Homo sapiens: one gene and its partner. The protein of the gene in region 1 purifies or fractionates together with the protein of each later gene. This does not show direct contact. Each region holds a gene or a part of one and is shown on either strand. Other genes may lie near its edges.

Region 1 (3,826 bases):
GTATATTTACGCATGCACGTTTTTAGCTCTAATGCAGCTTAGAGCTAAAGTATATAGCTTTGGTTTAACCATTATGGATGTATTCTAGAACAGGTGTCCTCAATTCCTGGGCCATGGACTGGTACCAGTCTGTGGTCTGTTAGGAAACAGGCTGCATAGCAGGAGGTGAGCGATGGGTGAGTGAGCATTACCACCTGAGCTCCACTTCCTGTCAGATAAGCGGCAGCATTAGATTATCAGGGAAGTGCAAACCCTATTGTGAACTGCACGTGTGAGGGATCTAGGTTGCATGGAAAAATTGTCTTCCACAAAACCAGTCCCTGGTGCCAAAAAGGTTGGGGGACGCTGTTCTAGAAGGAATGAAGGTCAAAGCCAGTATGAGTCTCAGAAAGTCAGTGGATGTTGAAGGTGAAAATACACTGAGAGACTATTTTAAGAGGTCTATGTGGTGTTTCAGATAGATCTGGTCAGAGATACTCAAATTACAGATTTGATAAGCCAGGGTATTCATTTAACTCCTGACAAATTTTACGTATGAACTAACAAGAGTCTGAGAAAGGATTGAGCACTAGGTTTACTGAGCTGGTGCCATGACGGGTTTACCATATTCATTAATAGAGTCCTTTTATCAGACCAGAAAGGTGCCGTTACTCCTTTATGATTTTAGATAAGAAAACTTGCTCAAGGTCATTCATTTGGAATTTGACTGCATGTCTTTCTGGCTTCAAAGTCCATCCTTATACCAGTGAATTTAAGTTCCTTATAAAGAGAAAATTCATTTTCACAGAAGTTAAGTACTTGAAATTAACTGTAATCTTCTGATTATCCTTTTATCTTCTGATAAAATTACAGTTAATTATAGTTAATTTTATCTTCTGATACAAGAAGCACTAGCATATTCAGTTTTCATAATGACAAATGCTTTTAAATTTTGAGAATTTAGAAAATGTGTACAAATAATAAAAATTCATTGTAGAAAATACAGACACTATAGATAACTACAAATTAGAAAAAAATTTGTCCTCATACCACCTAGAGAGAATCTGTTATTCTTTAGATATTTTTCCATTGATATATACCTAACTGCATACACAGGTACACACATACATGTACATTTAGGATGATAGAAAGCATTGTTTTTTATAGCGTGTTAGAGGTTTTGTTTTCCGTGGGCTTTCCCATTTTAGGTATTACTGTTTTAAAAATCTTTGCTATAAAGTGTAAAATATATCTTGCTTTAATTTTTTATACAAATATTTTGGTTTCTAAGGGGTGATTATTATAACTTCTAGTCCATGGTTTCATGAAAGCTTCTTAGATTAAATTTAACATCTCAAACTGCTTTTATTTCTTGAACAGTTAGGAAATACTTGAAACTTTTGAATAACACACAAACATGGAATTTAATAAGTATATGACCCTGTAAATGTTACAGTGTATATTAGGTTATATTTAGTCTCTCATTTTAAGACTTGAGTTCTTTATTTTTTTTAATGACTCGCTCTGTAGTATATTTTAGATTTCTCATCTATAAATCTAATTTGAAAATGATTCTTAACAGCTGATTTATATTTGGCTTTGCCATTTCTTTTGATTACAGATCGTTTATTATTTTTACGCCAATACATCTGGTACAGGTGAGTCTTCGGTTCTTCAGAGAAACAGTATGAACATCAAATATAAACAATATTGTTCTATATATGATTTGTTTTCATAATTGAATTCTAGATCATGATAAAGTTGCTGACATTCAGGCAAACTCAGTATGAGACATTTCAAACATTTAGGTAGAATCTGACAAGATATCTCAGTAGACTTAGGGTAGTTTTTGTTCCCTTAGTTACTATTAAGAATGTCTCATGACAATTTCTGCTTCCTCTGATGACTATTCTCAGGCTTATCTTGAATGTCCATATGAAGCATCTGTAGCCTGCATATCTTTTAAAATACATTTTTGTTCTTGTCATGTCATCTCACTTGTGGTTAATATTCAACTGCTGTATATCAGAGAAGGTTCTTTAGGTTTCAGTTCTTGTATATTTTTTAATTCCTTGAGTGTTAAGTATATTTGCAGGGATGATGCTAATTTCCAGCTTTAGAAAGAACAAAGAAATTATTATTATGACAAAAAAGTTATAATTCTGCTTTTAGATACATGTGTAGGAATTGTTTTATAGAATTATTTACATAGATTGCTTCTTCGTTGAGGATATCTTGTCGTAAAGTTCCAGAGATAATATAGTTCCATAAAAGAGACCTTTGGCGTTCTCTAGGACTTGCTCCAACGTCTTTCTGCTTTTACTCTATGTATGTGTGTGTGTATGTGCATACATGTATATATGTATGCATATTTACAATTTCTATACTTAATTGTGTCACTTTTTTTGTGGGTGTGGGATATGATAGGATAGAGCAATGAGTAGGAAGAGAGAGTGGAAGGAGAGGATAGGAGTGTGGGAGGTGGGCTGTGTTTTCTGACTTCTCTAGGCGACAGCTTGTTAGTCCTGAACACCCTTGGATGAGGTGTCAAGCTTGTCTTGTTCAGGTTGCTGCTTGATAATTCTTTTTTTTATTTATTGAGAAGGAAGACTCAAAAAGTTAACTCTGCTACAAGCCCTGTCCTCTGTGTGAGAACCTTATGATCAGGCATCAGAAGTAGGTATCTTTTTGTCTCCCTTCCTCCTGAGAAGCCTTTTTCCTTGAATCATTGTACAGGTTGCAAATGCACCATTAAGTGATTCATCTGTCTCATGATATGCTGCTTTCAAAAAGATTATAGTTCAATTTGTGCTCTTGAGTTTATGGTAATTAAACCCAAAGGTTTTGGGGTCAGTATTTGTTTCAAGTGACTTTTTCTTCTTTTTTTAAAAAAGTTCTTTTAATTATGAAATATAAACATACTGAGAATTATTGACAATATAATAAACCTGTATCAGCTAGCTCTTTTTGTTTTTATGCAAAATGTTACATCTCAAGTCCTTTCCCTTTTTCTTTTCCCTTCCCTTCTAGAGGAAATTATCATCCTCATATAGGTAGTATTCACATACATGTTTTGTATCTTCATTATATTTTTGTAACTGTCTTTTGATATTATTTTGTGTTTTAAAAAATGAGCGTAAATGTACTACATGTATATTACTAATTTTTTTTTTTTTTTTAAGAGAGGGTCTTATTGTGTTGGTCAGGCTGGAGTATAGTGGCTATTCACAGGCAAGATCATGGTACACTGTAGCTTTAAACTCCTGTGCTCAAGCAATCCTCCTGCCTTAGCCTCCCGTGTAGCTGCGACTATAGGCACATACCATTGTGCCTGGCCACTAACATTTTGGAATCCTATTTTGTGTTTTCTGATTTCCATAATTTATTTTTTTTCTATTTCATGAAATTATGTTCTTTATTCTTCTTTTCCATCTGTTTTCTTGATTTCTTCGGGTATTAATCCTCTAATTTGCTGTGTCTGCTTACTCACTTATGATGAGTAGTTTCGTGTCTTTTGTGAATGGTTTTATTTTGAACTTATGCTTGCAGATTCTTGCATCACATGAGTAAAGTGAAATTGTAATCTGATCTTACATATAGTACAGACTTGGACTTTTACTTTTTCATAGGAGATTTTATTCTTATCCTCCACAGAACCATAGTTCCAGGGAGAGAAGAGAGTCTTTAGTCTCCCTGGGCCTATGGTGAGGTGTTTCTAGTTCTTTCAATGACCTGGTGCAGTCATTTGAGCATCCTGGCCTTTGCAGGAGTCTCACTTCCAACTCCTGTCCTCTCTTTGGTTCAGTAGCTCATTTCCTATCTCGTGTGCTAAGTCCTGTTTTGAGTT
Region 2 (3,826 bases), on another chromosome or scaffold:
TCTACATTCCTAGATGGAAAAATCAAAGCACAAAGAGGAATGAGTTATATAACTCAGGACAAGGTAATTAAATCATGTGAGATACTGAAAAACAAAACAAAACCAACCCCCTAAGGTCTGCAGTTGAACTCCCTTGATGCTATTGTGCACAGTGAAAAATTTTGGTAGGTCTTTCTTGACTAACCCTCTTTAACTGAAAAGAATGCTTTGTTCCAATGACTAGAAGCTAATGAACTTAATTCATTTTCAATAAGCTATGACTCAAAGTGGTTACATTTTTAGTAAATTTTTTCAGCTTTCATGGACATGTTCCAATCCATCTTAATATAGGACAGGATTAAGCTCAGTTTGAAATTCTGGTGCCTAGAGTTGACAACAGATATAAATGAAGTGAGATATTAGACGGATGGAGCAACTCACACAAGGGAAATCTGAGGTCAAAAGATGTGTGATCGGCCCACGGTCACACAGAGGATGGTGCAGAACTGACCCTGGTGGCCTCTGGCCCAGGAGATTCAATACTGACTTCTACTTCAGCTCCCAGGCTTCCTTTATTTCATGATCCAAACAATTGGCTGGGGACAGAGTCCTCTTAAGTTTCCCTTCACCCCCAACTGTCCAAAGGTTCAGAAAACAAGAACAATATTTACTGTATGAGTGCAGGTTGTCAGCACTGCAGAACTCTCTGGCACTGGGACCCAGAACATGAAGAACGGGACTCACGAACTCAGCTGAAAGGACTGTCCTTTATCCCCTCTGAAGATGCCACAGTCTGGAATTTAAGAAATACACGCTTCTGCTCAGCAGATGAACATTCTAAGGCAGTTGTTCTCAAAACGCTTTTAAAGCTGTGAACTCCTTTTTCCTAAATGGAAGCTGGGCAGGTGGTGAGTATGTAAGATGTAACTGTAACTAAGTTCCTACTGAGTGCTGTTCTCCCGGGTTTAGCTTAAAATGGGCCCCCTGGAATTTCGTCAGGCCTGGCTTTCTCAGGCTTCGTCAGTCAGCTCTAGGGGAAGTCAACTTGTAAAAGAGACGGAGACTTGGAAACAAACTCATCCTTAGGGAAGAGGGAGTCAGGCCAACCAGCTTGGGCAGATGTCAGAGCTTTGGTTGTGAGAAGACAGATTCTAGTAAGAGGCCAGTTACCTTGGGCAGACCCAGGCATCTCAGAGTTTTTGATGCTGGGCCATTCCCATTTTTCCACACTTTCTATATATTAAAAACAATTAAGCATCAAAACCCGTGACAAAAATTATAGTGCTTTAAAAACATATGTATTTAACAAGTCAACATCTGATAACAATGATTGTGTCTACTGTGATACGTATTTCCAAGGAAATAACAGGTTTTTTTGTTGTTGTTGTTTTGTTTTTTCTGAGATGAAGTCTCGCTCTGTCACCTAGGCTGGAGTAAGATGGCGCGATCTTGGCTCACTGCAACCTCTGCCTCCCAGTTTCAAGTGATTTTTGTGCCTCAGCATCCTGAGCAGCTGGCTAATTTTTGTATTTTTAGTAGAGATGGGGTTTTACCATGCTGGCCAGGCTGGTCTCCAACTCCTAACCTCAGGTGATCCGCCTACCTTGGCCTCCCAAACTGCTGGGATTACGGGTGTGATCCACAGTGCCTGGCTGGAAATGACAGGATTTTTAGACGTGTTCATTTATGGAGGACCACTTGCTCTTCTGTGTGGTCATGAGACCAGATTTAAACATAAATATCTCCCCTTTCAGTCCAGTCAGCGTATCTCTGTGACTGTACATTTAACCTCACTTGGAAATCACATCAAAAGTCTAGATTTGAGGCTTTTCACCACTGTGAGCACTGGGCAAATGGCTCCTCTGGGATCTCTTGGGAAGGGAAAAGGCTGCGAACATGGTGGGAGATGTTTCTCTGCAAACTCTGGGTGCTATGCATCGTACGCGGCAGTGGTCTTGCTCCTCTCTAAGGATGTGTCACCCAGAGAGAGCAGAGAGGTTGCCACAGACCCCCTCCCAGGCTCTGAAGCAGCAGCAGACACACGCTGCAGGAAGCCTGCCCTGCCAGGGCCTGGCAGAGCCAGACCAAGCCAGCCTGAGAGCAGCCGGCCAAGAGGTTGGGCCCATCTGAGCAGGCTGAGATTAGCTGGTGCACACCAGCATGCCTGAACCAGTTTTTACAGCCATTCTGATAGGTCGGTGCCTCTGTCCTAGTTGTTAAATATTCTCAACATCACCGTTCTCTCTGTCAGATTACCAACAGTTGCTGAAGCAGCTGAGAGCCCAGGAATAGGCCTGGTGGTAGCTGATAGGACCTGAATATGAGCCCACAGGGTATCTTTCCTGTGAATTCTCAAGAGGGTGGTCTTTAGTGGTCTAGAGCTTACACTAGTTGGTAGAGACAGAACTCAAAATACACTGAATCTACCTTGGAGCAGCCGAAGGAAGCTGAGATTTGCATGTGTAGATAAAAGATGAATCCACCAACTTGAAATTGCAATTTTTAATTGCTGTAGGTATGTAGGATTTTATTATTCATTCAAGAATAGTTCATTTTAGAATCACGGTTTCATAGGGAGCATTTTCTCGGTACTATCTAGCCTTTGGGTTAAAAAAGTTCTGAGAGCTCTAAAGGGCCCTCCATTACTATGCAACAGTTGAAACAGCTATTTACTCAGTGTATGAGCAAGAACGGGTTATATAAGATTTTAAAATTGAATAGAGTCAGAGCTCCTTCATTCAGTATTTTTTCTCATGAACAGTCTCCCCCAGAAGGATGAGTTATTGAAAAAATTAATGCAATGGAAGCCACTTAAAAGATACCAAGTTATGGTGATGAGAAAGGAAAAGTTGGAATTGGCTCCTTCCCAAGAGGCTATTTGACCAAATATCAAATGCGGATGATTTTTCATCCCTTCTTCCCTTCAAAAGTACTCAATATCAGTTAATGTCACTGAACGTGACATCCCCCAAAATACTTCCCAGCTGAAACTGAGTCAAATATATTACCTTTAGAGTAAATCATAAATTCAAATTTTTTTTCTGTATTATTTTGTTTTGCCTTTGCACACTGGTATCATTTTTCTTCCCATGTTGTAGCACACTTATTTTATGCATTTGCTAAATGACTATGCCCCAGTAATACTAATCATTCTTTTTAAAAATGTAAGACAGAGTTTTGCTCTGTCATCCAGGCTGGAGTATAGCCTCAGCTCACCGCAACCTCCACCTCCTGGGTTCAAGCAGTTTTCGTGCCTCAGCCACCCAAGAAGCTGGGATTACAGGCACTCACCACCACACCCGGCTAATTTTTGTATATATATATTTTTTTTTAGTAGAGACGGTTTCACCATGTTGCCCAGGCTGGTCTCGAACTCCTGGCCTCAAGCAATTCACCCGCCTCAGCCTCCCAAAGTGCTGGGATTATAGGCGTGAGGCACCGCTGCCCACCTAATTATTCTAAACAACTTAGTAGAAATAATAGTAAGACTAAAATAATTTATTACATCATTCTAGTTTTAGGAGATTTCATTATTTTTGAACAATGATTTATTTTATACTGTTTTGCCAAAATTCCACGGAGAAAAATGCAATTCTTGTTTGACTTTTAGGAATATATTTTTTAAGTAAAGCAAGTGTAATTTAATTTTAAACTGTTAAATTGTGATTGCCTTGGAAGTAGCTGCTTCTCAGACAACTCATGACTCAGGTCTGCCTGGCATCACTGGGCTCTGGAGCTGTTAGCAGTGCCCATTATTATTTTATACAAAATGTCTTGCTCCCACACACATTTCCACACTTTATGGAAGTTAGAGTTGGGAGTTATGAGTAATACTAATTAAAAAACC

The links.
Region 2: the proteins of NBAS (region 1) and SLC2A12 purify together in Homo sapiens (co-immunoprecipitation; one large-scale study listed by IntAct). This does not show direct contact.

What each region holds. Positions count from the first base shown.
Region 1 is NC_000002.12:15,554,594-15,558,419, reverse strand, and holds part of NBAS (NBAS subunit of NRZ tethering complex), read left to right. Parts: intron 1-1,600; coding exon 1,601-1,637; intron 1,638-3,826. UniProt on the Homo sapiens protein: Involved in Golgi-to-endoplasmic reticulum (ER) retrograde transport; the function is proposed to depend on its association in the NRZ complex which is believed to play a role in SNARE assembly at the ER. Required for normal embryonic development.
Region 2 is NC_000006.12:134,046,122-134,049,947, reverse strand, and holds part of SLC2A12 (solute carrier family 2, facilitated glucose transporter member 12), read left to right. Parts: intron 1-3,826. UniProt on the Homo sapiens protein: Insulin-independent facilitative glucose transporter.